Linked DNA regions of Homo sapiens. The protein of the gene in region 3 purifies or fractionates together with the protein of the main gene of each other region. This does not show direct contact. Each region holds a gene or a part of one and is shown on either strand. Other genes may lie near its edges.

Region 1 (7,000 bases), on a different chromosome or scaffold from region 3:
GCAGAAGCGCCCCTCACCTCCCGGATGGGGCGGCTGGCCGGGCCGGGGGCTGACCCCCCTACCTCCCTCCCGGACGGGGGGACTGACCCCCCCCACCTCCCTCCCGGACGGGGCGGCTGGCTGGGCAGAGGGGCTCCTCACTTCCCAGTAGGGGTGGCCAGGCAGAGGCGCCCCTCACCTCCCGGACGGGGCGGCTGGCTGGGCGGGGGGCTGACCCCCCCACCTCCCTGCCAGATGGGGCGGCTGGACCCCCACCTCCCTCCCGGACGGGGTGGCTGCCGGACGGAGGGGCTCCTCACTTCTCAGACAGGGCGGTTGCCAGGCAGAGGGTCTCCTCACCTCCCAGACGGGGTCGCGGCTGGGCAGAGGCGCTCCTCACATCCCAGACGGGGCGGTGGGGCAGAGGTGCTCCCCACATCCCAGACGATGGGCGGCCGGGCAGAGACGCTCCTCACTTCCTAGATGGGATGGCGGCCGGGCAGAGAAGCTCCTCACTTTCCAGACTGGGCAGCCAGGCAGAGGGGCTCCTCACATCCCAGACGATGGGCGGCCAGGCAGAGACGCTCCTCACTTCCCAGACGGGGTGGCGGCCGGGCAGAGGCTGCAATCTCGGCTCTTTGGGAGGCCAAGGCAGGCGGCTGGGAGGTGGTTGTAGCGAGCCGAGATCACGCCACTGCACTCCAGCCTGGGCACCATTGAGCACTGAGTGAACGAGACTCCGTCTGCAATCCCGGCACCTCGGGAGGCCGGGGCTGGCGGATCACTCGCGGTTAGGAGCTGGAGACCAGCCCGGCCAACACAGCGAAACCCCGTCTCCACCAAAAAAATACGAAAACCAGTCAGGCGTGGCGGCGCGCGCCTGCAATCGCAGGCACTCGGCAGGCTGAGGCAGGAGAATCAGGCAGGGAGGTTGCAGTGAGCCGAGATGGCAGTAGTACAGTCCAGCTTCAGCTCGGCATCAGAGGGAGACCGTGGAAAGAGAGGGAGAGGGAGACCGTGGAGAGGGAGAGGGGAGAGGGGAGAGGCGAGAGGCTATGTACATTTTTAAAAGCTTATTTTACCTGCCAGTAAGCAGGTAGTACAAGCAATTTGTGCAAAAGGCTTTTGACAAAAAGAATATTTACAATACTCTCTTTATACTTTTTCTAGAAACAAGCTTTTTTGTGTGTGGGTTTGCATCTATGTATATGTTATTTTGTGTGTGTCTATTAGAAAGTAAAGACAAATTTTATTTGTTTATTTATTTTGAGACAGAGTCTCACTCTATCACCCAGGCTGGGGTGCCTGGGCACAGTCTCCACTCACTGCAACCTCTGCCTCTCAGGTTCAAGCAATTCTTGTGCCTCAGCCTCCCAACTAGCTGGGATTACAGACACCCACCAACACACCTGGCTAATTTTTGTATTTTTGGTAGAGACAGTTTCACCATGTTGTCCAGGCTAGTCTCAAAACTCCTGGTCTCAAGCGATTTGCCTGCCTCGGCTTCCCAAAGTGCTGGGATTACAAGGTGTGAGCCACCATTCCCAGCCAGAAAGTAAAGACAAATTTTAAAAGAAGGAGATGTTTTACCAATAATCCCTTATCCAGAGGGTAAATTGTGTACATTTTCTTTTTTTTTTCTTTTTCTTTTTTTTTTTTTTTTTGAGATGGAGTCTCACTCTGTGGCTTAGGCTGGAGTGCAATGGCACGATCTTGGCTCACCACAACCTCCGCCTCCCTGGTTCAAGCGATTCTCCTGCCTCAGCCTCCCGAGTAGCTAGGAATACAGGCATGTGCCATCATGCCTGGCTAATTTTTGTATTTTTAGTAGAGATGGTTTCACCATGTTGGCCAGGCTGGTCATGAACTCCTGACCTCAGGTAATCCATCTGCCTTGGCCTCCCAAAGTGCTAGGATTACAGATGTGAGCCACCACACCCAGCCTTAATTGTGCACATTTTCTAATTTTAATTTTTTATTTTTTTGAAACAGAATCTTGCTCTATTGCCCAGGCTGGAGTGCAATAGTGTGATCACGGCTCACTGCAGCCTTGACCTTCTGGGCTCAATGAGTCCTCCCAGCCCAGGTTCCCAAGTAGCTACAGGCACATGCCACCATACCTGGCTAATTTTTGAATTTTTTCGTAGAGACAGGGTTTTGCTATGTTTCTCAGGCTGGTCTAAAAATTCCAGAGCTCAGGTGATCTGCTCACCCTAGCCTCCCAAAGTGCTGGGATTACAGGTGTGAGCTACCGCATCCAGCCCTGAATATTCTTTCAGAGGTAGGGTTTTGTGTGTTTTGTTTTTAGTTCAAGCAGTTTGACTACATCCTAAGGTATAAAGGTACTAATAAACAAGTCAGTTTTTCTTTTGTGCATTTTTCTTTATTTTAGAGCCTTCAGGGAAATTTTTTTTTAGAAAGATCAAGAGAAGGCCAGGCGTGGTAGCTTACGCCTGTAATCCCAGCACTTTGGGTGGCCGAGGTGGACAGATCACCTGAGGTCACGAGTTCGAGACCAGCCTGGCCAACCAACATAGTAAAACCCGTCTCTACTAATAAAGTACAAAAGTTAGCTGGGTGTGGTGATGCATGCATGTAATCCCAGCTACTTGGGAGGCCGAGGTGGGAAAATCGCTTGAATCTGGGAGGCGGAGGTTGCAGTGAGCAGAGATTGCGCCACCGCACTCCAGCCTGGGCGACACAGCGAGACTGCTTCTCAAAAAAAAAAAAAAAAAATCAAAAGAATAAGTAAGCCCTAGAATCAGTCTTTCATCATTTTATTTTTTGAGATAGGGTCTCACTCTGTCACCCAGATTGGAGTGCAATGGTGCGGTCATGGCTCATTGCACCCTCAACCTCCTGGGCTCAAGTGATCCTCTTAACCTCAGCCTCCTGAGTAGCTGGGACTGCAGGCTCATACCACCACACTAAGCTAAATTTTAAATTTTTTTGTAAAGACAGGGTCTCACTGTGTTGCCCAGGCTGATCTTGAATTTCTGGGATTACAGGTATGAGCCACCATGCCTAGCCTGGGCAACAAGGATGTTTTCTGTATAAATTGCCGTCTTATACAATGTGTAGAATTTGGAATAGTATGAATGGCCAAATGTCATACCTTTTGGGAGAGTCTGATTTAGGAGAGTATTTTTTGGAAGAATAATTAAGTTACTTGCCTTGATATCCAGATGCTTTAAATATTACTATGGTGCTTGTATCTTTTTCAGCAGGGGAAATGCTGTCTGTAGCTGAGCACTTCCTGGAGCAGCAGATGCACCCAACAGTGGTGATCAGTGCTTACCGCAAGGCATTGGATGATATGATCAGCACCCTAAAGAAAATAAGGTATCTTGGGGGCAAGAAATAGGTAGTATCAAATATGAGAGGCCTGGCTAGACGTGGTGGCTCATGGCTGTCATCCCAGCACTTTGGGAGGCCTAGGCGGGTGGATCTTGAGGTCAGGAGATGGAAACCATCCTGGCCAACATGGTGAAACCTCGTCTGTACTAAAAATACAAAAAATTAGTTGGGCATGGTGGCGCATGCGTGTCGTCCCAGCTACTTGGGAGGCTGAGGCAGGAGAATTGCCTGAACCAGGGAGTCAGAGGTTGCAGTGAGCTGAGATGGCCCCACTGTGCTCCAGCCTGGTGACAGAGCAAGACTCCGTCTCAAAAAAAATCAGCTGGGTATGGTGGCGCACACCTGTAATGCCAGCTACTCAGGAGGATGAGGCAGAAAAATTGCTTGAAACCAGGGGGCGGAGATTGCAGTGAGCCAAGATCTCTCCACTGCACTCCAACCTGAGCAACAAGAGCGAAACTCCCATCTCAGAAGAAAAAAAAGAAAAGCATATATTACCTCTAGCTTCAGGGAATTTTAGTTAAGGTTTAACATCACGTAGAGTCATGTAGAGCAGTGTCTTGAATAAAAATTTTTGTTTAAAAAGTAAAACCTGGCAGGGCTCGGTGGCTCACGCCTGTAATCCCATCACTTTGGCCCAGGTGGGTGGATCACGAGGTCAGGAGTTAGAGACCAGCCTGGCCAACATGGTGAAACCTCGTCTCTACTAAAAGTACAGAAAATTAGCTGGGCATGGTGGCAGGCGCCTGTAATCCCAGCTATTCAGGAGGCTGAGGCAGGAGAATCGCTTGGACCCGGGAGGCGAAGGTTTCAGTGAGCCGAGATTGTGCCACTGCACTCCAGCCTGGGTGACAGAGTGAGACTCTGTCTCAAAAAAATAAAAAGTAAGACTTGGGCTGGGCATGGTGGCTCACACCTGTAATCCTAGCACTTTGGGAGGCCAAGGCGGGTGGATCACCTGAGGTCAGGAGTTCAAGACCAGCCTGGCCAAGATGGTGAAACCTCATTTCTACTAAAAATGCAAAAATTAGCCAGGTGTGGTTGCATGCGCCTGTAATCCCAGCTACTCGGGGGGCTGAAGCAGGAGAATCACTTGAACCCGGGAGGCGGAGTTTGTGGTGAGCCAGGATCGCACCATTGCACTCCAGCCTGGGCGAACAACAAAACTCCATCTCAAAAAAAATAAAAATAGGGCTGGGTGCGGTGGCTCACGTCTGTAATCCCAGCACTTTGGGAGGCGGAGGCGGGCGGATCACGAGGTCAGGAGATTGAGACCATCCTGGCTAACATGGTGAAACCCCATCTCTACTAAAAATACAAAAAAATAAGCCGGGCGTGGTGGCAGGTGCCTATAGTCCCAGCTACTTGGGAGGCTGAGGCAGGAGAATGGCATGAACCCGGGAGGCAGAGCTTGCAGTGAGCAGAGATTGCACCACTGCACTCCAGGCTGGGCGACAGAGCGAGACTCCATCTCAAAAATAAATAAATAAAAATAAAAATGTATATTTTTTCCACGCCCAACTGGAAATAGTTTTTTTTTTCTTTATTTAAATATTCTACTCATATGGTTGAGTCACTAGATGCATAAGTGTTTAGTAATTTGGTGAGGTTTATATTATACTGCCTGCTCTTTTTTTTTTTTCTTGAGACGGAGTTTTTGTACTTGTTGCCCAGTCTGGAGTGCAATGAATGGCGCGATCTCGGCTCACTGCAACCTCCACCTCCCAGGTTCAAGTGATTATCCTGCCTCAGACTCTCGAGTAGCTGGGATTACAGGCATGTGCATCCACATCCGGCTAATTTTGTATTTTTAGTAGAGACAGGGTTTCTCCATGTTGGTCAGGCTGGTCTCAAACTTTCAACCTCAGGTGATCCACCCACCTTGACCTCCCGAAGTGCTGGGATTACAGGCGTGAGCCACCGCGCCTGGCCATATACTGCCTGCTCTTAAACAAGTTGTACATTAATATCTTTGTCTGGCACACTTAAGAATGAGGTGTTTGATCTAATTATTTTTATGCAGTAAGCTCTGTGAGAATGTAGAGGTACCCAAAGGTTTTATTGTGTGGAGCTTCACGCTTAGAAAGCCTTTTTTTTGAGACGGAGTTTCACTCTTGTTGCTCAGGCTGGAATGCAATAGCTGGATCTCAGCTCACTACAACCTCTGCTCCCTGGCTTCAAGCAGTTTTCCTGCCTCAGCCTCCCGAGTAGCTGGGATTATAGGCATGTGCCACTACGCCTGGCTAATTTTGTATTTTTAGTAGAGACGGAGTTTTTCTCCACATTGGTCAGGCTGGTCTCAAACTCCCGACCTCAGGTGATCCGCCTGCCTCGGCCTCCCAAGGTGCTGGGATTACAGGCGTGAGCCACCGTGCCTGGCCTGAAATATTTTTTTTTTTTAATCAAGTAATAACTGCCTACCTAGAACACTTTAATCTTATTAAAAAAATTTTTTTGGGGTGGCGGGGGGTCTCGCTCTGTTTTCCAGGCTGGAGTGTGCAGTGGCATGATCTCGGCTCACTGCAACCTCCGCCTCTTCGGTTCAAGCAATTCTGTCTCAGCCTCCCAAGTAGCTGGGACTACAGGCGCATACCACCACACCTAGCTAATTTTGGTATTTTTAGTAGAGATGGGGTTTCACCATATTGGTGAAGCTGGTCTCAAACTCCTGACCTCAGGTGATCCTACCACCTCGGCCTCCCAAAAAAATTATTTTTTAGAGATATGGTCTCACTCTGTTGCCTAAGCTGGAGTGCGGTGGTGCAGTCACAGCTTACTGCAGCTTCCAGCTCCTGGGCTCAAGCAATCCTGCCCCAGCTTCCCAAGTAGCTAGGACTATAGGTATGTCCACCACGCCCTGCTAAATTTTTCATAGAGATGAGGTTTTGCTATGTTGCCCAGGTTGGTTTTTAACTCTGGGCTTCCAGCTATCCTCAGTCTTCCAAAGTGTTGGGTTTACAGGCGTGAAGCATGGCACCCAGCCCCCTTTATCTTAGATACCATTTTTGGAGTCATTGCTTCTTCCCAAAAGTCCATAATTCAACCATTTAATAATTGGTATATTATGTGCCTTTCACTGTTAAAAGAGGGATTTTGTTTATTTTGGGGTTTTTTTGAGACGGAATCTCACTCTGTCACCCAGGCTGTCGTGCAGTGACATGATCTCAGGTCACTGCAACCTCTGCCTCTGGAGTAACTGGGACTACAGGCACATGCCACCACTCCTGGCTAATTTTTGTATTTTTAATAGAGATGGGGTTTCACCATATTGGCCAGGCTGGTCTCGAACTCCTGACCTCAAGTGATCTGCCCGCCTTGGCCTCCCAAAGTGCTGGGATTACAGGCGTGAGCCACCGTGCACAGCCAAAAAAGAGATTTTAGCATTATGTGAAAATATCTTGTGAGGAGTGAAAGTAATATAAAAATGGTAAATACATAAAATGTGTTTACAGTAACATAAAAACACAAAGATGACCAGTTGGTGGTCATCTTTGACCACTGTGACACACCATGAGCTAAAAATAAAATTTGCTGTTCAAATGAATGATTTGATAAAACTCTTAAAGTTGGCTAGTTATGGGATAAAGTTTCATAAAAAAAAATGTGTCTTGACCTGAGTTGTAAAAGTTGAAAAGTTTACTTGGTTGAAGCAGAAGATAAGGAA
Region 2 (7,057 bases), on a different chromosome or scaffold from region 3:
AATCTAGAGAAATAAACTGTTTTCCTTCCTGGTTATTTTCCTGTGCTGCAACAAACAGCCTGAAGAGCTGGTAACACCTTACATCCTTCTTCCTAGCCAAGATGATCACAACCCCAAAGATGGAATCATTTCAAAGAAGCTAATTTCCAAACTCTAAAATAGTTAAGTTGTATATATTGGCTCACTTGACCTTTATATTTACTTAACATTTCAGAAGTCTTCTAAAAGATCCCCCCATTCTCTACCTATTCTTCCACCTCCACAGCCCCTTCTCCTTTCCCTCCAGTGACTACACCAGATACTGAAGCCAAACCGAGCTAGCTATTTATAGAAATAGCATGGCTTTCCTCTCGCAGTCTGTACCCAATCTTGTCCCTATGCAAACTCAGTTATCCTCACAAGCTAAGACATAGGTGTCTTATTTATTTGACCCTCAGATGACTACACCCCAAAGGTCTTACCGTCGCCCTGTTCAGATGAAGGTCAGGATTGCTAGAAGCTTTTCTGTCAACTTTCTCCTATAATGGGATGAAAAGATTATCAGTGGATCCTGTCTCAATGTTAAGGACTGACATGCCCAACATGTCCTACGCCTCCTCTTTCTAGAGAAATGGAAGTTTCTTCCTTGCCAAAATGGTATTTATACCACAGAAGCAGTTACCGTATAACAGTGTGGATATCTTAGTCCCAAAACCTTAGGGATATAAGTGTTTTTGTATGTGTGAGACTTCAAAATATTATTATAATTTATCCATGTAGTAGTATTAAGATAGAATAAATCTTTATATAAATGAAATATGTGGGCCGGGCACAGTGGCTCACACCTGTAATCCCAGCACTTTGGAAAGCCAAGGCTGGCAGATCACCTGAGGTCAGGAGCTCAAGACCAGACTGGCCAACCTGGTGAAACACTGTCTCTACTAAAAATACAAAACTTAGCTAGGCATGGTGGCATGCACCTGTAATTCCAGCTACTCAGGAGGCTGAGGTAGAATTGTTTTAACATGGGAGGTGGAGGTTGCAGTGAGCCGAGATTGCACCACTGCACTCGAGCCTGGGTGACAGAGTGAGACTTCATCTCAAAAAAAATAAATAAATGAATGAAATAGGTGAAATCATTTTGATTTTTAAAAATTTAAATAGTGAAGTGCTGGTAATAAATGAAGAAAGGCTAGGATAGAAATGGTGTTCATTTAATGCATTTCCTCTGCCCATAAACCTAGCTCCAGACACATGCGGAATCATGTTTCTACATCCAAGTTCCCTTAAAACACAGATAGAAAACCAAATTCAGACTCTAACTAAAATAGATGGCCAGGAAAAGAATTTTTTTTAAACAGATAAAATAGATGGCCAGACACCACAAGACAGTGCAGACCATGTGCTGTGAAGCAACTGCTGGCTATGTTCATGACTATGCTTATTATATTTTTTTAATTCTCTTCATTACCTGGCGCATTGTAAAAGCACAAACAACATGAATTAAAATTGTTTAAATGGTTGGTTCAGATATGTTTACAAATGCAGGTCTGGGCGAAAAACTTCAGATTAAAAAGAGATGACCAGGCACGGTGGCTCACACTTGTAATCCCAACACTTTGGGAGACCGAGGCGGATGGATCACCTGAGGTCAAGAGTTCAAGACCAGCCTGGCCAACATGGTGAAACCCCGCCTCTACTAAAAATACAAAAATTAGGCGGGCATGGTGTGGCACGTGCCTGTAATACCAGCTACTTGAGAGACTGAGGCAGGAGACTCACTTGAACCTGGGACACGGAGGTTGCAGTGAGCCGAGATCGTGCCACTGCACTCCAGCCTGGGTGGCAGAATGAGACTCCGTCTCAAAAAAAAAAAAAGATTAAAAAGTGACTATTTAGCAGAAGCCAAATATAAAATGTTGAAGGAATATACCACACTATTCTTTAAAATGTAAACATTCACCAAATTAAGAAATTAGAGTAAAATATAATTGCTCTAAAAGTTCCGTGATTGAAAAAGGGCAGTTTAAAGTCAAAGGTAGAGTTGTGGGGAGAGTGGCAGGAGGGGGAGAAAAACCAATTTAAAAGGGCAGTCCCTGAATTGCAAACATGAACATACAGTAACTGTGTTCTTTATTCTACCACAGGGAGCAGAATAAGTAATGATAAGTTAAAAAGCAATTCTCTATATCAAGAGAAGCAAAAGAAGAAAGGTAAATATGAGAGCTAAATAAAAAGTGCTCAGAGGACCAATGTGAAGTCAGAAGCCAATTCTAATAATGAGAAAAAAGGCACTCAAAGTCTGAGGGAAAGCCCTATGCAAATGCCTATCAACATAAAAATGCTTGAAAACCTAAATAAATTTCTTGAAAACCTAAATAACCTAATTCACTTAATTCCTAGGAAATGACACAGAACAAGCTACACATTGTTTTCTCTTTTAGCCCATGGGAAATCCAGAGCCATAATATTACCTAACGGTTAATTTGGGGATAGCACTTAATTTACACTGAAGTATAAGTTTTCATTATTCTTTAAAATGAATGTACAAAAATATTAATAAGTATTATTTTAATAGACTTTTTTCCCATTAAAAAAGATGAACATGTTGAGGCAGCTCTGTGATTTGGTTATATATGTGTGTAAGAAACCCAGACAGGTCAAGGAGCTATCCAGCACCAATGCGACACGATGCAAGTGGTTCCTAACACTCAAGTTATAAGAAGTCAGTCATCTCTGCAGACACATCTTTGCAAAATCACAAAAATGAGATGCCAGCAAACACTGCCACTGCCCATGATGCTTGCTAAAGGGCCACAAAGAAGACTGAACAATGCTCTTGCTTCTGTTGTTGCCTATTCATCTGGCCTGGTGACCATAAGTACTTACTGCTTGGGCATAGGCACTGAGGGCTTGCTGGGAGATCTTAGGGTTCTGGCCAGTAGAGAAGTAAAGGGAAAGATATGAATTCCCAAGAATATCTGAAAGAGAAACACAGTGACAAATCATCTCAGAGTCCAAGTTCAAGATATGACTTATTTTGATCATTCTTGAAAGTATATTTGAAAGGTCCCACAAGAAATCCAAACCAGGAATGACACGATACTTAGTATACCCAAAACTCCACTAGGATAGAGCACCAAGGACACCAAACTGAAGTTTGAACAGACTGTACAAAAGCCCTTCCTTGCTTACGTGAAAACTAGGATCAAAAGATCGAAGAGTTCCTAGAAAAGTAGTTCCCCAAAATGTCTTTCGTGTGTCTTCAAAACAAAGATGCCCTCTCTGGCTTAAACCTCAGAATCACACTCAAAAGAGGGACTGCAAATGTTGCTCTGATTGAAAACATCTGCTCTAGAAACCTGTTGGAGATCTTTTGAGAGCACTCACACCAGGAGCGGCCATCATGGACATCCATCTGAACAGCCAACTTAGCCTGTCGGACACTGTCCATGACATGGTGAGAATGTTCATCTTCAGTGTCAGTCCGCAGCTGACGAAGCACCATTGACAGGTTTTGCAAGGAGACTTTGTTCCTGCACTGCAAATAGGAAGGGCACATACTCAATCTTCCTGATTCTACCTCCCCTTTCCAGATCTATTCTGAACTCAGTCTTCTAAATCTAATTTTTTACCTTTCTAAGTTTTTTGTTTTGTTTTGTTTGAGGTGGAGTCTTGCTCTGTCACCCAGGCTGAAGTGCAATGGCGTGATCTCGGCTCACTGCAACCTTTGCCTCCCGAGTTAAGTCTTTCTCCTGCCTCAGCTTCCCAAGTAGCTGGGACTACAGGTATGCACCACCATGCCCGGCTAATTTTTATATTTTTAGTAGAGACTGAGTTTCACCATGTTGGCCAGGCTGGTCTTGAACTCCTGACCTCAAGTGATCTGCCTGCCTCAGCCTCCCAAAGCGCGGGATTACAGGTGTGAGCCACCACGCCTGGCCGTATTTTTCTTTTTGTGACAGGGTCTCACTCTGATGGAGTGCAGAGGCACGATCTCAGCTCACAGCAACCTCCACCTCCTGGGTTCAAGTGATTCTTGTGCCTTGGCCTCCTGAGTAACTGGGATTACAGGCACATACAACCATGCCCATCTAATTTTTGTATTTTTTGGTAGAGGCAGGGTTTCACCATGTTGGCCAGGCTGGTCTCGAACTCCTGACCTCAAATGATCTCCCCACTTTGGCCTCCCAAAGTGCTGGGATTACAGGCATGAGTCACCACGTCTGGTCCATGTATATATATATATTTTTTTTTTTTTTTTTTTTTTTTGTAGAGACAAGGTCTCACCATGTTGCCTAGGCTGGTCTCAAACTCCTGAGCTCAAGTGATCCTCCTGCCTCGGCCTCTCAAAGTGCTAGGATTACAGGTGTAAGCTACCACACCCAGCCCTAATTTTTTCATCTAAATTCTTGCTGCCATCTGTATCTTCAACCCCCATCCACAGGGATCAGCTTAGCTGCTAGCTTTTCTTCACTTCCTTTCTCCCCCTGAACCTGATCCCATCATCATCTTCCTTTCCCAGGCCCCTGCCTCTATTTTCCTCATTCAGGTCTGCTCTCTGACCTTTCCTCCCTCCTGATTCTGTCCTAGTTCAATTTCAGTTCTACTCTGGTATTCATGTCCTAGGGAAACTCATAGAACCAAAGAAATTCATCCTTCCCATCTCTGCTTTCCAAAGGGATAGGGGGCAGCTCACATGGGTGAGGGCTCCTGAGAAGCAGGTGTGGGCAGCTGCAACATCCCCTTTTTTCCAGTACACCTCACCCAGCTGGTTCCAGGCTTCCACCAGCTCGGGCTCCAGCTTCACAGCCTTTGACAGAAGCTCCTCAGCCTTAGGGCTATAGTCAGGAGTCACATTTAGTGCTTTCCCAGTTAGCATTAGAACTTGTGCCTTGCCCTGGACAGAACCTAAGAGGAAGAAAAAAAGATAAAGTGGGAAAAAAACAAGTTAAAGACCAGGGCACTTTCTCTCAAAAAATAACTACACGTCAGTTTTAGGAATAAAAAGAGTTGGGGAAAATATTTATCAATAAACCATTTATTGAAAGCTCACCATAGGCAGAGTGTATGTTAGCTAATTAGGCAACAAAGAAAGCACTATTTCTAGAGCTTCTGCCATCTGTTTCTTGGGCCCCTATCTACAAGGATCAGCTCGGTTGCTAACTTTCCTAGAGGGGTTTACAATCTAGTGGAGAAGACAAAGCGTAAACATGGAAAATTAAAACCATGAAAAAGAGCATATGGCATTAGCCCAATGAATGGGCTTTAACAAGTGAAGAGAAGATGAGTCAGGACAAATAGTTATCGTTAAAACAAAACAGAGAGAGAGAAGAAAAGACCCTCCAGGTTAGAAAATGATATAAACAAAGACACAGAATCAGAAGTACATGTGGCCATGTTCATGGGAGAATAGACAGTTCAACCTGGATGAAACAGAAAGTTCCTCTACAAGTAATTAGTCAGAGATAAGGTTAGAAAACAGAGTAAAACAATGGACACTTAAATACCAGGTTAAGGGGGTTAGACTTCAGCTAGTCAATAGCAGGAATCTTTAAAGATACCTGAGCAAAAAGGCAGATGAGAGGATAAGGTTAAATGCATGAAGTAATGATTTAGAAAGATAGCCATGGCCATGGTATTATATAAGTGGATTTGAAAGTAAAAGAAATTAGAGGCAGAAAGTCAGATTACTGCAATAGTTCAAGTAAGTATGCTCTTTCATTTCATGCCATTTGCTATAATCAAATTTTAGGAAAAGTGGCTTAGGGAATGAAAGGTTGCACAGGGGCCCTGAGAAGTAGTATTACGTTGTACTACCCTATAGCAGTAACAGATAGGATACCAAAGAGTCAATGAGGAGGGAGCAAAGGTCAATCACATTTCACTGAAGGATGGGGGTTGTACAATCTCTAGGGCTCATACCCACTACTTCTTCCATCTGCTGTAGGGTTTTCTCCATCTCCTTCTGCACATCCTGTTGCTTCCTCCCAGCATCCTCAACACTATGTGTCTCGAAATAGCAGTCTCGAAATGAGTAGAGCTGATCCACGAGTTCCTAAAAAGTATGACAATGGAACCATTAAGTGGAAAGATCACTGGATAGGGAAACTTGAAATTGGCTAGCCATACCAGCTCTTGGTCTAGAAATACCAATTCTCTTTCTCACCTATGAATGGCACAATAGGCAGGTGGACAGGTTTACTAAAATGCCACAAATCATGAGGAAAAGCAGCCAGTACCCCAGGCCAGCTCTCATGGTCCCATGTTGTCCCATGCCAGTGTCTCTATTGTGATGACCATTTTCTCTCCCTGCCTCAGCAGGGCTTCTAATATGACTAAGCACTTCACATACCACAGTCATGAGGAGGGAAACACTGCAACTTAAGATAAACCAAAAGTTAGTAAGATCATTCTATATGGTCCTGGTCCTCAAAGAATAACACTTTGAAATTTACCCTTAAAGTTGGACTTCTCAACTAAAACCATTTTATCCCTGATTTTTCATATGCTGAGATCTGAAAATACAACACAACCTTTGTGAATATAATAAACATGTTAGAGAGTCATTGTTTTCCACCACAAACATACCAATTTGAACTTGGTAACTTTGGTATCTTTGCAGCATTTTGTTCTTTTAAATGCTTATTGTGGTTTTGTTTAGTTTGATTTTTTTGTCAAGTCATCTTCTGGCTGCCTTGGATTTTTTACAAATAAATATTCTCTTTCCTCTTAAATGCCTCTGAGTCTTCCTGTCACACCAGGCAAAGCTTTTCTACTACAGGTCAAGCATCCCTAATGCAAAAATCTGAAATCCTCCAAAATCTGAAACTTTTGAAACGCTGACACCACAAGTAGAAAATTCCACACCTGACACACAGTCAAAATGCGGTCAAAACGTTGTTTCAGGCACAAAATTATTAAAAATATTGTATCAAATTACTTTCAGCCTATGTGTATAAAGTGTAAATGAAACAATTTTTTTTTTTTCTTTTTTAAAAGACAGGGTCACCAGGCGTGGTGGCTCATGCCTGTAATCCTAGCACTTTGGTAGTCCAAGGCAGACGGATCATGAAGA
Region 3 (5,553 bases):
CACACAGGGTGCCCTGATGGGACTGCCCTGCAGAAGTCACACTGACCTGGTGACTTCTCAGTTTGTAAGCATTTTTAACTTACAGCCTTCGATGTAGCTACATGTAGGAAAGAATTATGTACCTGTAGAATTACCTGTGTGGGGGTGCTGGAGCTTATTTCCCTTCACTGGGAGCTGGTCGTGCTGACATTTATATTGTAAGCTGAGTTTCACTTCCTAGAGTCATAAATCACAGTTTGGTTATCACACATTTGCACTTTGGTTATCACACAGAGACATTTTCTACCAGACACTGCCACTGTTGACCTACAACATGTAGGTCATGTACTTTGAACAGCATGTACTTTGTAGAAGTGAACAGTCCTGGAATGTGTCCATCTTGGTGAGTATAGGCCTTAAAGATTCACAGTACATACGGTCTCTTTTGTAGATGAAGTGCGCACAGGAACCTATAGGCAGCTCTTCCACCCAGAGCAGCTGATCACCGGGAAGGAAGATGCGGCCAATAATTACGCCAGAGGCCATTACACCATCGGCAAGGAGATCGTCGACCTGGTCCTGGACCGGATCCGCAAACTGGTAAGAAGAGAAGGCTTCATGTGACCATTGTCCTGCACAGGAGGGTAGATCTTAGATTGTGAAGGGGAGGTCATTTTGTCAAAACCTAGACCAGTGCGTTGGCTGGGTCTGGTGGCTCACGCCTGTAATCCCAACACTTTGGGAGGCCAAGGTGGGCAGTCACCTGAAGTCAAGAGTTTGAGACCAGCCTGGCCAACGTGGTGAAACCCTGTCTTTACTAAAAATACACACATTAGTCAGGCGTGGTGGTGCCTGCCTGTAGTCCCAGCTACTCAGGAAGCTGAGGCAGGAGAATGGCTTGAGCCCGGGAGGCAGAGGTTGCACTGAGCGGAGTTCATGCCACTGCCCTCCGGCCTGGGCAACAGAGTGAGATTCTATCTAAAAAAAAAAAAAAAAAAACAACTTAGAACAGTATCTTGAGTCCTATTGCGTCTGCAATGGTCTTAGTCTGAAGTATGCATGGTGATTTGTCTGTAGATCTTTGTCTGCTTTTCTTTGCTTCAGAGTGTACTGCGTGTTTATTATGGATGATTGGAATCCATATCAAGTCTTCAGAGGCAGAGAAGTGGCCCTGGCTTGGTGGAGGTTGGTGGTGTGGCTTCCACGGGCATTGATTCATGTTGTCTGGTTTCCCTCAGGCGGATCTGTGCACGGGACTGCAGGGCTTCCTCATCTTCCACAGTTTTGGGGGTGGCACTGGCTCTGGGTTCGCATCTCTGCTCATGGAGCGGCTCTCAGTGGATTACGGCAAGAAGTCCAAGCTAGAATTTGCCATTTACCCAGCCCCCCAGGTCTCCACGGCCGTGGTGGAGCCCTACAACTCCATCCTGACCACCCACACGACCCTGGAACATTCTGACTGTGCCTTCATGGTCGACAATGAAGCCATCTATGACATATGTCGGCGCAACCTGGACATCGAGCGTCCCACGTACACCAACCTCAATCGCCTGATTGGGCAGATCGTGTCCTCCATCACGGCCTCCCTGCGATTTGACGGGGCCCTGAATGTGGACTTGACGGAATTCCAGACCAACCTAGTGCCGTACCCCCGCATCCACTTCCCCCTGGCCACCTACGCCCCGGTCATCTCAGCCGAGAAGGCCTACCACGAGCAGCTGTCCGTGGCTGAGATCACCAATGCCTGCTTCGAGCCAGCCAATCAGATGGTCAAGTGTGACCCTCGCCACGGCAAGTACATGGCCTGCTGCATGTTGTACAGGGGGGATGTGGTCCCGAAAGATGTCAACGCGGCCATCGCCACCATCAAGACCAAGCGCACCATCCAGTTTGTAGATTGGTGCCCAACTGGATTTAAGGTATGACTGGGTAATGTGGAGTCCTTGTACCTTTCAGCAAGCAACAGACACACAGAGTAATGCTGCCCCTGAAGGCCCACATCCTTTGAGGATACTACCCCTATTCCATGGGCTAGGCATGTGGGCATCAATTAGTGAACCAGAGTGATCATTAATTCAGTGATGTCTTTTTTTTTTTTTTTTTTTTTTTTTTTTTTTTTTGAGGCAGAGTCTAGCTTTGTCGCCCAGGCTGGAGTAAAGTGGTGTGATCTCAGCTCACTGCAATCTCCATCAGCCTCCCAAGTAGCTGGAATTACAGGCACCCACCACCACACCCAGTTAATTTTTATATTTTTAGTAGAAACAGGGTTATGCCATGTTGGCCAGGCTGGTCTTGAACTCCTGACCTCAGGTGAGCCACCCACCTTGGCCACCCAAAGTGCTGGGGTTAGAGGCGTGAGCCACTGTGCCTGGCCCAGTGATGTCTTTTGAACTCTTTCTAAGTCATTACACTATGTATCTGTGATGAGCTTTACTTACTTACTTTGTTGTTGAGAAGGCTGGAGTGCAGTGGTGTGATCTCGGTTCACTGCAACCTCTGCTTCCCAGGCTCAAGTGATTCTCTCACCTCAGCCTCCTGAGTAGCTGGGACCACAGACATGCACCACTACACCCAGCTAATTTTTGTGTATTTAGTAAAGGGATTTCACCATGTTGGCCAAGCTGGTCTCAAATTCCTGGTCTTAAGTGATCTGCTTGTCTTAGCCTCCCAAAATGTTGGGATTACGGGCATGAGCCACTGTGCTCAACCCTATTTATTTACTTTTTTGAGACAGAATCCCACCTGTCACCCAGGCTGGAGTGCAGTGTGGTGATCACAGCTCTCCACTAAAAATACAAAAATTGGATGGGCATGGTGGCCCATGCCTATAATCCAGCACTTTGGGAGGCCAAGGCAGGCGGATCACCTGAGGTCAGGAGTTTGACACCAGCCTGGCCAACAGGGCAAAATCCCGTGTCTACTAAAAATACAAAAATTAGCCGGGTATGGTGGCGGGCACCTGTAATCCCAGCTACTGAGGAGGCTGAGGCAGGAGAATCACTGGGACCCAGGAGGTGGAGGTTGCAGTGAGAAGATATCACTCCACTGCACTCCAGCCTGGGTGACAGCACAAGACTCTGTCTCAAAAAAAGAAAAAAAGACAAGATCATACAAATTCTAGGCCTTACAGGTTACACGACCTCTGTCACACCTACCCCACTCTGCTGTCGGATAGCAAAATCAATCTGCAAATGAAGGGGTGTGGTGGCTGTGTTCAGACAAGATCTTACAAAATTAGGTGGCTAGTCCAGCAGCTGTGCTAACCCCTGAAGGAGAAGAAGAGACACCCACAGTAGGAAATCCCAGTCAGAACTGACTGCAGTGGTCTCCCCCAACAGAGACGGTGGGGGTCTGAGCCAGAGGCAGCAGGGAAAGCACAGCACAAGAACGCACAGGCCCAACAGAGAAATGCCACAAGATTTAGTAACCAACTATTGATAAAGCTGAAAGAGGACAGCAAGGTTTCTTTTGTGTCAGTGGAAGGTGGGGACAGATTTTGTGTCTGAGGCAAACCCAGGCCAAAATTACTAGGCTTCCCGGAAAAGAAATAAAGACGTTGCTGCTTTTTGTTTTGTTTTGTTTTGTTTTGTTTTTGAGACGGAGTCTTGCTGTGTCGCCCAGGCTGGAGTGCAGTGGCGTGATCTTGGCTCACTGCAAGCTCCGCCTCCTGGGTTCATGCCATTCTCCCGCCTCAGCCTCCCGAGTAGCTGGGACTACAGGCGCCCGCCACCACACCCGGCTAATTTTGTTTTTGTATTTTTAGTAGAGACCGGGTTTCACCATGTTAGCTAGGATGGTCTCGATCTCCTGACCTCGTGATCTGTCCACCTCGGCCTGCCAAAGTGCTGGGATTACAGGTGTGGGTCACCGTGCCCGGCCTTTTAATTTTTTTGAGACAGGGTCTTGCTCTGTCACCCAAGGAGTGGTAGGATCTCAGCTCATTGGAACCTCTGCCCTCCAGGCTCAAGCAATCCTCCCACCTCAGCCTCCTGAGTAGCTGGGACCACAGGTGCATGACACCATGCCCAGCTAATTTTTTTGTATTTTTGGTAGAGACAGGGTCTTGCCATACTGCCCAGGCTGGTCTCAAACTCAGTTCAAGAAATCCACCTTGGCCTCCCAAAGAGCTGGGATAATGGGTGTGAGCCACTGCACCTGTTGCTGTTTTCATCACAAACAACTCATTCTTTTTTTAAATCAAACCCTACATGAGACAGTGGAACGAATGATGTTGTGAAGCAGTTTATAGTAATGCCCAAGTTAAAATAAAATATATACACCACCTACAAGATTCCCCAAAATGCCCATAAAATTACTAAGTTCAACCTACCTTTTCCACATGAATTCTACCACCCAAGAAAGGGGCACAAAAATCCTTTAGAAAATACCTTATTCTTAAAAAAAAAAAAAAATGCTGGGCATGCTGCCTCATGACTGTAATCCTAGCACTTTGGGAGGCTGGGGTGGGTGGATCGATTGGGCCCAGGAGTTTGAGGCCAGCCTGGGCAACATATGTTGTCTGGAACTGTCACCCTGCCTGGCACAGAGAAGGGCTTAGTGACATTTGTGGGGTGAACTGAGAATTCTCCTGTTCACCTACAGGGTGTCTTCTTTTTGAGGAAAAGCAGCCACCATTTCCAGGTTTGATATAAGCTTCATGGACTGTTTCTTCCTCTTCTCCGGCAGGTGGGCATTAACTACCAGCCCCCCACGGTGGTCCCTGGGGGAGACCTGGCCAAGGTGCAGCGGGCTGTGTGCATGCTGAGCAACACCACGGCCATCGCGGAGGCCTGGGCTCGCCTGGACCATAAGTTCGATCTCATGTATGCCAAGCGGGCCTTTGTGCACTGGTACGTGGGAGAAGGCATGGAGGAGGGGGAGTTCTCTGAGGCCCGCGAGGACCTGGCAGCTCTGGAGAAGGATTATGAAGAGGTGGGCGTGGATTCCGTGGAAGCCGAGGCTGAAGAAGGTGAAGAATACTGAGGGGAGGGTGTGGTGGGTTCTCCACTCCACTGCCACCCCCAGCGTGGCTGCTTTCAAGTTCTTTGCAATTAAAGGTTCTGTATAAAACCAAGACCTCTGTGTATCGTACTGCCTAGCTTTGCCTGCAGGAGCAGGTGGGACCCCCAGAGCCTGCATGGACAGTGGTGGGGTGCCAGCCTGCCCTGCTAGCATGGAGTTGGGTGCAGCGGGATGGTACATACTTAAGGAGCTGCCACAGAAGTAACTTGACACGGAGAAATAGATTTCCTAAATTCTAGGAAAGCACAGTCAGGGTTTTCAACTGAATTTGCAACTTTGGGGGCTTTTCTATTGATGGGTGATGCGAGCTACAAAGAAGAGTCTAGACATGGAGTGTTTAAATCTGAGGTCTGTGGATGGGGCTTGTCCATGAAATCCCTAAAGCTGTGGGTCAAATGTGTAAGGTCAGGACATTTTAGAAGGGAAAGAGTGTTACTGTGTTCTGCACAGCATTCGTGACCCATAGAAGGTTACAACACACCCAGCCTTCCACAGTAACCTGGAAGACAGCATTTGCCCTCCGTGCACACACACGGCCACTCTGCCCCTCAG
Region 4 (7,696 bases), on a different chromosome or scaffold from region 3:
CATAGCACCTACACTTGCCATGTTCTCACTTTTGGTTGCATTGTTTTTATTTTCTTAATCTCTGATCTTGGTTATTAATAGGACAGTCAGCAAAGATTTTATCTGATCAATACAGCATAGGATACCCGTATGTTGGTAGAGTCAAAGAATGCTGTAGACCTAAATGTTACAGTGAATCCAGTTAAAATTCTACCAGTCTGGGCAACATGGCAAAACCCCATCTCTACAAAAAATACAAAAATTAGCCAGGCATGAGGCACATGCCTGTAGTCCCAGCTACTGGGAGGCTGAGGCCGGAGGATTGATTGAGCCCCGGAGGTCGAGGCTGCAGTAAGCTATGATCATGTCACTGCACTCCAGCCTGGGTGACTGATCAAGACTGTCAAAAAAAAAAAAAAAAAAAAGAGAGAGGGAGAGAAATGTAGGGGTGGGTTGCCCCTCCACACCTGTGGGTGTTTCTCGTAAGGTGGAACGAGAGACTTAAGAAAGAAAAAGACACAGAGACAATGTATAGAGAAAGAAATAAGGGGACCCGGGGAACCAGCGTTCAGCATTATGGAGGATCCCGCCAGCCTCTGAGTTCCCTTAGTATTTATTGATCATTCGTGGGTGTTTCTCCGAGAGGGGGATGTGTCAGGGTCACAAGACAATTGTCGGGAGAGGGTCAGCAGACAAACACGTGAACAAAGGTCTTTGCATCGTAGACAATGTAAAGGATTAAGTGCTGTGCTTTTAGATATGCATACACATAAACATCTCAATGCTTTACAAAGCAGTATTGCTGCCCGCAGTTCCCACCTCCAGCCCTAAGGCGGTTTTTCCCTATCTCAGTAGACGGAACATACAATCGGGTTTTATACCGAGACATTCCATTGCCCAGGGACAGGCAGGAGACAGATGCCTTCCTCTTGTCTCAACTGCAAGAGGCATGCCTTCCTCTTATACTAATCCTCCTCAGCACAGACCCTTTACGGGTGTCGGGCTGGGGTCTTTCCCTTCCCACGAGGCCATATTTCAGACTATCACATGGGGAGAAACCTTGGACAATACCTGGCTTTCCTAGGCAGAGGTCCCTGCGGCCTTCCGCAGTTTTTGTGTCCCTGGGTACTTGAGATTAGGGAGTGGTGATGACTCTCAAGGAGCGTGCTGCCTTCAAGCATCTGTTTAACAAAGCACATCTTGCACCGACCTTAATCCATTTAACTCTGAGTTGACACAGCACATGTTTCAGAGAGCACGGGGTTGGGGGTAAGGTTATAGATTAACAGAATCTCAAGGCAGAAGAATTTTTCTTAGTACAGAACAAAATGGAGTCTCCTATGTCTACTTCTTTCTACACAGACACAGTAACAATCTGATCTCTCTTGCTTTTCCCCACAGAGAAAGAAGAAAGGAAGAAAGAATAAAGAAAGAAAGAAGAAAATTTTAAGTTTATACCTTTTAAAAAAGGAAACTTAAAAATCAGTAAGTTTTAATTTTTAATAAGATAAATAATTTATTCTATCAAACATCACCAATGTCAGATCATTTCAACATTATTTCTAACTTTTCAAAGTACATAGCATAAACCATAAAAGTTGTCTAACTGAAATTAAATCTTCGTGAGAGATAGTTTTAATAGACTGGGTTTTTAGCAGTGAAGTTAAAGAATGATAGTTTAGTATACAGAAAGAAACAGTTATGGTGACACTTAGTTCTTCATGATGCACTGTAAGCACAAATTGGACATCACATGATAAGTAAAAAGGATGGTCCTTCTGGCAAATAAAAATTAAATAGGTCCTCACAGTGATATGCAGTCTCCAAACATGATCTGTCTAATTTCTCTCTCTCACCCAAAGTAAAAAGTTAAGTTGAAAGATTAAAACCTGCCTTCTTGTTACTATTTCACAAATACACCCAGATAGTACCAGATTAGTGACTAAAATCCAGATATTTTCCTTTTAGATAAATTAAGCCATATACATTGTAAAATACTTATTTTTTAAGAGAATCAATAAAGCTATATTTATTTTCAGTAGAAAATGTGGCTCATAGACACTTTATTTCTCTGAAATTGCCTCTCAAGAAAAAACTTGATCCTCACTATTGATCTAAGAGAAATCTGCATGAAGCAATGCTGTAGTTTATGCTTTTTTTTTTTTTTTTTTTTTTCTCAAAGGTGGTGGGTGACCTCTGGAGGCAACTGGAAAAAATATACTGCTGCTTTCAAGAGTGAAGTGGGGAATGAAGAATCAGAAAGTAGATCTTTCCATTTAGAGAAGGCTTTTTCTTTTTTTTTTTTTTACATTTAATCAGGGTGAATTAAAATATTTAATTTAAAAATGGCTTTACTGAACCTCAATTCAGTTAGGTAATTAATCAATTCAGTTAGGTAATAGCTACTAAGTATGTAATACAATGTTAGGGGAGAGACATATAACATCCATAGTTTCAATCTCATTGAGTTTATAATCTACTAAGGAACTGAAGATAAGTGCTAAAAGAACTGTAACACGAGGTAAAACCTGTGACAAGATTTAGGAGCAGCACAACTATATAGTTGTGAAACTAAACCAGCCTCAAGGCTGAAAGGCAGGTGAGAAAAGACTACCTACCAAAGTAGGTTTTGTTTGTTTGTTTGTTTGTTTGTTTGTTTTAACATGGATTCTCCAAAGATAGGTAGAAAAGTCCTGGTTTGGCGTCATTAGTCTACTTCAGCCCCTCTCTCACTGATTACGACTGAAAGACTCATGACAAAATACAAATGGCAACTACCTGCCGCCTCTGAAAAGTAAATAAAGAATTGAGGTAGGGAGTCAAAACTTAGAAACCTGCAAGGGGATGAATTTCCTGGCTTTTTTCTTCTTTTCTTGTGGTTTGTCCTGAGGAGAGACCCCAGCTGGGAACTGTTGGGTGGCATGGGTAGCTAAAACTCGAATAGAAATCTCATCTTTCTGTGCTGAAAGGAAATAACGGTTAGCCCAGAACTCTATTTTCAGTGAAAATATTTTCAGGAATCAAAGTGAAATAAAGACATTCTCATATGAAGGAATGCCAGCTGACCTGCTCTAAAATAAATGCTTGGCGGGCCGGGCGCGGTGGCCCACGCCTGTAATCCCAGCACTTTGGGAGGCCGAGGCGGTCGGATCATGAGGTCAGGAGTTCGAGACCAGCCTGACCAACATGGTGAAACCCCGTCTCTACTAAATAAAAAAATTAGCCGTGCGTGGTGGCACGCGCCTGTAATCCCGGCTACTCAGGAGGCTGACGCAGGAGAATCGCTTGAACCTAGGAGGCAGAGGTTGCAGTGAGCCGAGATCGCACCATTGCACTCCAGCCTGGGCGACAGAGCGAGATTCCGTCTCAAATAAATAAATAAATAAATAAATAAATAAATAAATAAATAAATAAAAAAGAAATGCTTGGCGGGGCATGGTGGCTCATACCTGTAATCTCAGCACTTTGGAAGGCCAAAGGCAGGCGAATCACTTGAGGTCAGGAGTTCGAGACCAGCCTGGCCGACATGGTGAAAACTCGTCTCTACCAAAAAGCGCCACAACACTCCAGCCCGGGCGACATAGGCTCTGTCTCAAAAAAGAAAACAAACAAACAAAAAAAAAAGTGGGGGTGCGGGTGGGGGGAAGACTTAATGACTAAACGAATAAGTCTGGAGAGACGGGTTGCAAGGGATGATGAGACTAAGGTTTGTAGTCTGGGAGCCTAAGTGGATGAAAGTTGGAAGAATCAGGTGGAAAAGAACATTTCAAATAGACCACAAAGAAAAGTATATAACATTTTGAGGCTGTGGTACGCTTTGTTAAAGAGCAAAAGGAAAACAATTCCTCAAATCAGGGGGGAGGGATAGCATTAGGAGATATACCTAATGTTAAATGACGAGTTAATGGGTGCAGCACACCAACATGGCACATGTATACATATGTAACTAACCTGCACGTTGTGCACATGTACCCTAAAACTTAAAGTATATAAAAAAAATTCCTCAAATCGATGCCACGCTCCACTTCTTTACAACGATGGAATTATTTCAGGAATTGGAATTATTTCAGGAATTGTGTTTGAAACCACAGCTTTGGATCCCGATTTCTTTCTTGAGCTACTGTTACACTGTTTATATACGGCCACTAATTCGATGACTGAGCTTGGGCAGATTGTTAATTATTTTCTATGACTTAATCTTTCTATCTGTACAACGGGGATAACGTGGAATTTGGAGTGTTGTGAGGGTTGAGATAATATACGTGATAACTTACACAATGACGTTCAACAAATACTTGTGGAGTGAAAGATGCGCGATTCATTGACAGATCTCAGGGATTTCAGAAAGCTGTATAAGGACCAGCTCTTCAGGCTCCCTTCGCTCCCCAGGAGACCGGGGAGCCGGCGCGAGGCGCTACAGTGTAATTCTTGGCCCCTTTTCCTCATAATGGTTTGGCCGCATTTTTACCTCTTGATTTCCCTGGTCCCAGGCTGCAACTTCAGCTCGCTCCGCCATGGGGCGCACGTCCGCCAGCCTCTGTGAGCTCAGCTAAGTATGATGCCTAGGCTAGAGAGCTACGTCCGGTCTCCTAGGCAACCATATCAACTTCCGGCTTGAGGCACGATAGCGGTTGGCGAGAGGCCACATTTCCGCCACGTGACCCGCGCATGCGCCTGCTTGCTGGAGAGCGAGCGTCTTTTGCCACGAACACCTGCGGCGTGCCGAAGTTCCTCTTCTCTGCCCCGGTTCCGGGCGGTCCGCTGGGAGGTGGCGCCCGGAGGGACACCCGTGCCTGGGGTCGGGGCCAGTGCTCTTCTCGGAGCTCCAGAAGTTCTGCTGAGAAGCGCGGCGGCAGCAAGACGACTTCTCCGGAGCCGCCGAGCTGGAGTTAGAGGTGGAGCTCCGTGGGGCCGGGCCCCCGGCTGCGGGGCAGCGGCTCCTGCAGGCGGAGGCCCCGGCGGAGAATGAGCCGGAGCCGGAGGTGGTGGTGGTCTCCTGGCAGAGCGGTGGGACCGGGAGCAAGCTGCGGTGGTTCACCACCTTGATGCTGTGTGCCTCCTTCCTGGGGCTGGTGAGAGCCGGGGCTGCAACACTCCCAGGCCGGGGCGTTCGAGTCTTGCCTTCGCCACTTGCAAACTGACCTTGGGCGCGTTACCTAATCTGACTGGGCCTCAGTTTCATCATCTAGAAAATGGGCACAATTCTAATCTTGGAGGAAATAGATTTTCTGAATACGTCTTTCAGCTCCAGCAAGCTTTTTTTTTTTTTTTTTTTGACGGAGTCTCGCTCTGTTGCCCAGGCTGGAGTGCAGTGGTGCGATCTCGGCTCACTGCAACCTCTGCCCCCAGGGTTCAAGCGATTCTCCTGCGTCAGCCTCCCGAGTAGCTGGGATTACAGGCGCCTGCCACTAAGCCCGGCTAATTTTTGTATTTTTAGTAGAGACGGGGCTTCGCCATGTTGGCCAGGCTGGTTTCAAACTCCTGACCTCAGGTGATCCGCCCACCTCGGCCTCCCAAAGTATTGGGATTACCGGCGTGAGCCACGGCGCCCGGCCCGGCAAGCCTTCCTACGTCTCCTTCGTCGGATGGGAAGGTTGCAAGAGGGGTTCACCAGGTCTTTGGCCGCTGCTCTCCGCACCCACCCACTCAACCCCCAAATTATTACACAGAAAAACTACTTTTCTGGAATTTCTTCCTGGTGATCTGACCAAATTCAGCCAACCGCTTAATTTTGCAGATAAGGAAATAGGCCCGGAGGGGAAAGTGACTTTCTGGATCACACAGCTGGTTAAGTGATAGAGCCAGAAATATGTCTTTTACTCTGCCCACCATCCTATTTATTAATAAAACCAACCTTTAGATTCTTAAATGTTTTTCTTGGAGCAAAGGGCAAGCCTAGAGGCGCCTTTTGCCAAACCCCTGGGTCGCCACTCAATTCACTTTTCGGAAACCTCCTCCTTATCACTTGATAATTATGATCCTGGGGGAGTTGAGAGGATGAGTCCTCCCAAGAGTCATGTGTGGTCACTTACCATCTCAGGGACTCTGAGCCACAGTTGTTTCTTAGAGTATTTTGATTGGGGGCGGTGGGGAGGGGTGAAGAAAGAAATCACTTCAGACTTTTGGTGAGTCGTCACTGACTTGTCCGGTCCTGTTGTAAATCCTTTGAAGACATGAACTAATTTGATTAGATTCTGTGCTCAGGCTTCTCTCGAAGTACGAGGTGCTTGCTGTGCACCTGGGCCCATAGTGGTCCGTGGTCTTGGACTGTTACGAGTTGGGCAGGGGGCGCACCCCATGCATTTAGAGCAGAGCAGGGCAATTAGAATCAGTTATTCTGGAAATGTAGACTGATTGGAAACATTTTTTTCTTTAAATGTCCAATGAATTTCCTCTGAAAGTCAATTGTAATCCTTACCTCTTGCTGACACTGCATTGAGTAAAGTTTTATTGTTAAAGTCATTCTGTACTTGGGCGTGTAATATTTTTTAAGCAACCTTTACTGACTAATTCTGATGGCGTGGAAGAAAAGTGTAGATTTAGAAACATTTAAATTGTTTATCTCCTGTATGTTTTATATGTATAGTTCAGGGGAAGGACTCCATGTGCATCCAGAAATATTGCTGTTTAACAACATAAAAAACAGGAATCATATTTTGATGTTTTGATCAAGGTTTTGACGTTTTCCAGTGGCTCAGTCAGAACTCACTACAGTCTCGACCTCAGGGCTTAAGCGATCCTTCCATCTCAGCCTCCCTAGTAACTGGGACTACAGGCATGCGCCACCACGCCTGGCTGATTTTTTTCATTTTTATTTTTGTAGAGATGGGGTTGCCTAGGTTGATCTCAAAACCCTGAGCTCAAGCAGTCCTACCATCTCTCCCTTCCAGATTGCTGGGATTACAGGTGTAAGCAACCACACCTGACTTAATTTAATTAATTAATTTATTCTTTCTGAGACAGAGTCTCGCTCTGTCGCCCAGGCTGGAGTGCAATGGTGCAGTCTCGGCTCACTGCAACCTCCGCATCCCGTGTTCAAGCGATTCTCCTGCCTCAGCCTCCCGAGTAGCTGGGACTACAGGCGCCCACCACCATGCCCAGCTAATTTTTGTATTTTTAGTAGAGATGGGGTTTCACTGTGTTGGCCACGCTGGTCTCAAACTCCTGACCTCGTGATCCGCCTGCTTCGGCCTCCCAAAGTGCTGAGATTACAGGCGTGAGCTACTGTGCCCGGCCAATTTAAATTTTTAATACCCAAATTCTTATTTGTGCATGTAATATATTTCAAAATGTACGAAACCATTTCAAAAATAGTTTTAATATTACATTTTATTAATACAGAATAGTCTTTTAAAGGTATTGTTCAGAAAGGAAACAGGATTGCAACAAAAAAATAATTTTTTAAAAACTGAGAGGTGTCAAAACAAAAAAAAAATAAGAGTTTTAGTCAAAACTAAAAAAACAGTAGTCTAATTCCCTACATTACATTGTAAATCCCAGACCCTCCGCCCCCCTTTTTTTTTATAGTGGAAGAAACTACCACATAGTTAGACATTATTTTAATGATTATAAGTAAAAACTTTTGTCTTTTTAAATTTTAGGGATTGAGTGTTGCTATAGTGGGACCCACGTTTCAAGATTTGGCAACAAACGTGAACCGAAATATCAGTAGTCTGTCTTTCATTTTTGTGGGTCGTGCCTTGGGATATTTGAGTGG

What was found.
Region 1: the proteins of TUBA3C (region 3) and CCT3 purify together in Homo sapiens (affinity purification with mass spectrometry, with the first as the bait; 3 studies listed by BioGRID). This does not show direct contact.
Region 2: the proteins of TUBA3C (region 3) and TTC5 purify together in Homo sapiens (affinity purification with mass spectrometry, with the first as the bait; 3 studies listed by BioGRID). This does not show direct contact.
Region 4: the proteins of TUBA3C (region 3) and SLC60A2 purify together in Homo sapiens (affinity purification with mass spectrometry, with the first as the bait; 3 studies listed by BioGRID). This does not show direct contact.

The regions. Positions count from the first base shown.
Region 1 is NC_000001.11:156,321,293-156,328,292, reverse strand, and holds part of CCT3 (T-complex protein 1 subunit gamma), read left to right. Parts: intron 1-3,203; coding exon 3,204-3,321; intron 3,322-7,000. UniProt on the Homo sapiens protein: Component of the chaperonin-containing T-complex (TRiC), a molecular chaperone complex that assists the folding of actin, tubulin and other proteins upon ATP hydrolysis.
Region 2 is NC_000014.9:20,295,929-20,302,985, forward strand, and holds part of TTC5 (tetratricopeptide repeat protein 5), read right to left. Parts: intron 6,038-7,057; coding exon 5,905-6,037; intron 4,891-5,904; coding exon 4,679-4,890; intron 3,521-4,678; coding exon 3,370-3,520; intron 2,961-3,369; coding exon 2,869-2,960; intron 519-2,868; coding exon 462-518; intron 1-461. UniProt on the Homo sapiens protein: Cofactor involved in the regulation of various cellular mechanisms such as actin regulation, autophagy, chromatin regulation and DNA repair.
Region 3 is NC_000013.11:19,173,272-19,178,824, reverse strand, and holds the end of TUBA3C (tubulin alpha-3C chain), read left to right. Parts: intron 1-430; coding exon 431-579; intron 580-1,217; coding exon 1,218-1,898; intron 1,899-4,665; coding exon 4,666-4,962; 3' UTR 4,963-5,053; downstream 5,054-5,553. UniProt on the Homo sapiens protein: Tubulin is the major constituent of microtubules, a cylinder consisting of laterally associated linear protofilaments composed of alpha- and beta-tubulin heterodimers.
Region 4 is NC_000006.12:111,254,677-111,262,372, forward strand, and holds the start of SLC60A2 (sodium-dependent glucose transporter 1), read left to right. Parts: upstream 1-4,662; 5' UTR 4,663-5,024; coding exon 5,025-5,051; intron 5,052-7,580; coding exon 7,581-7,696. UniProt on the Homo sapiens protein: May function as a sodium-dependent glucose transporter. Potential channels for urea in the inner medulla of kidney.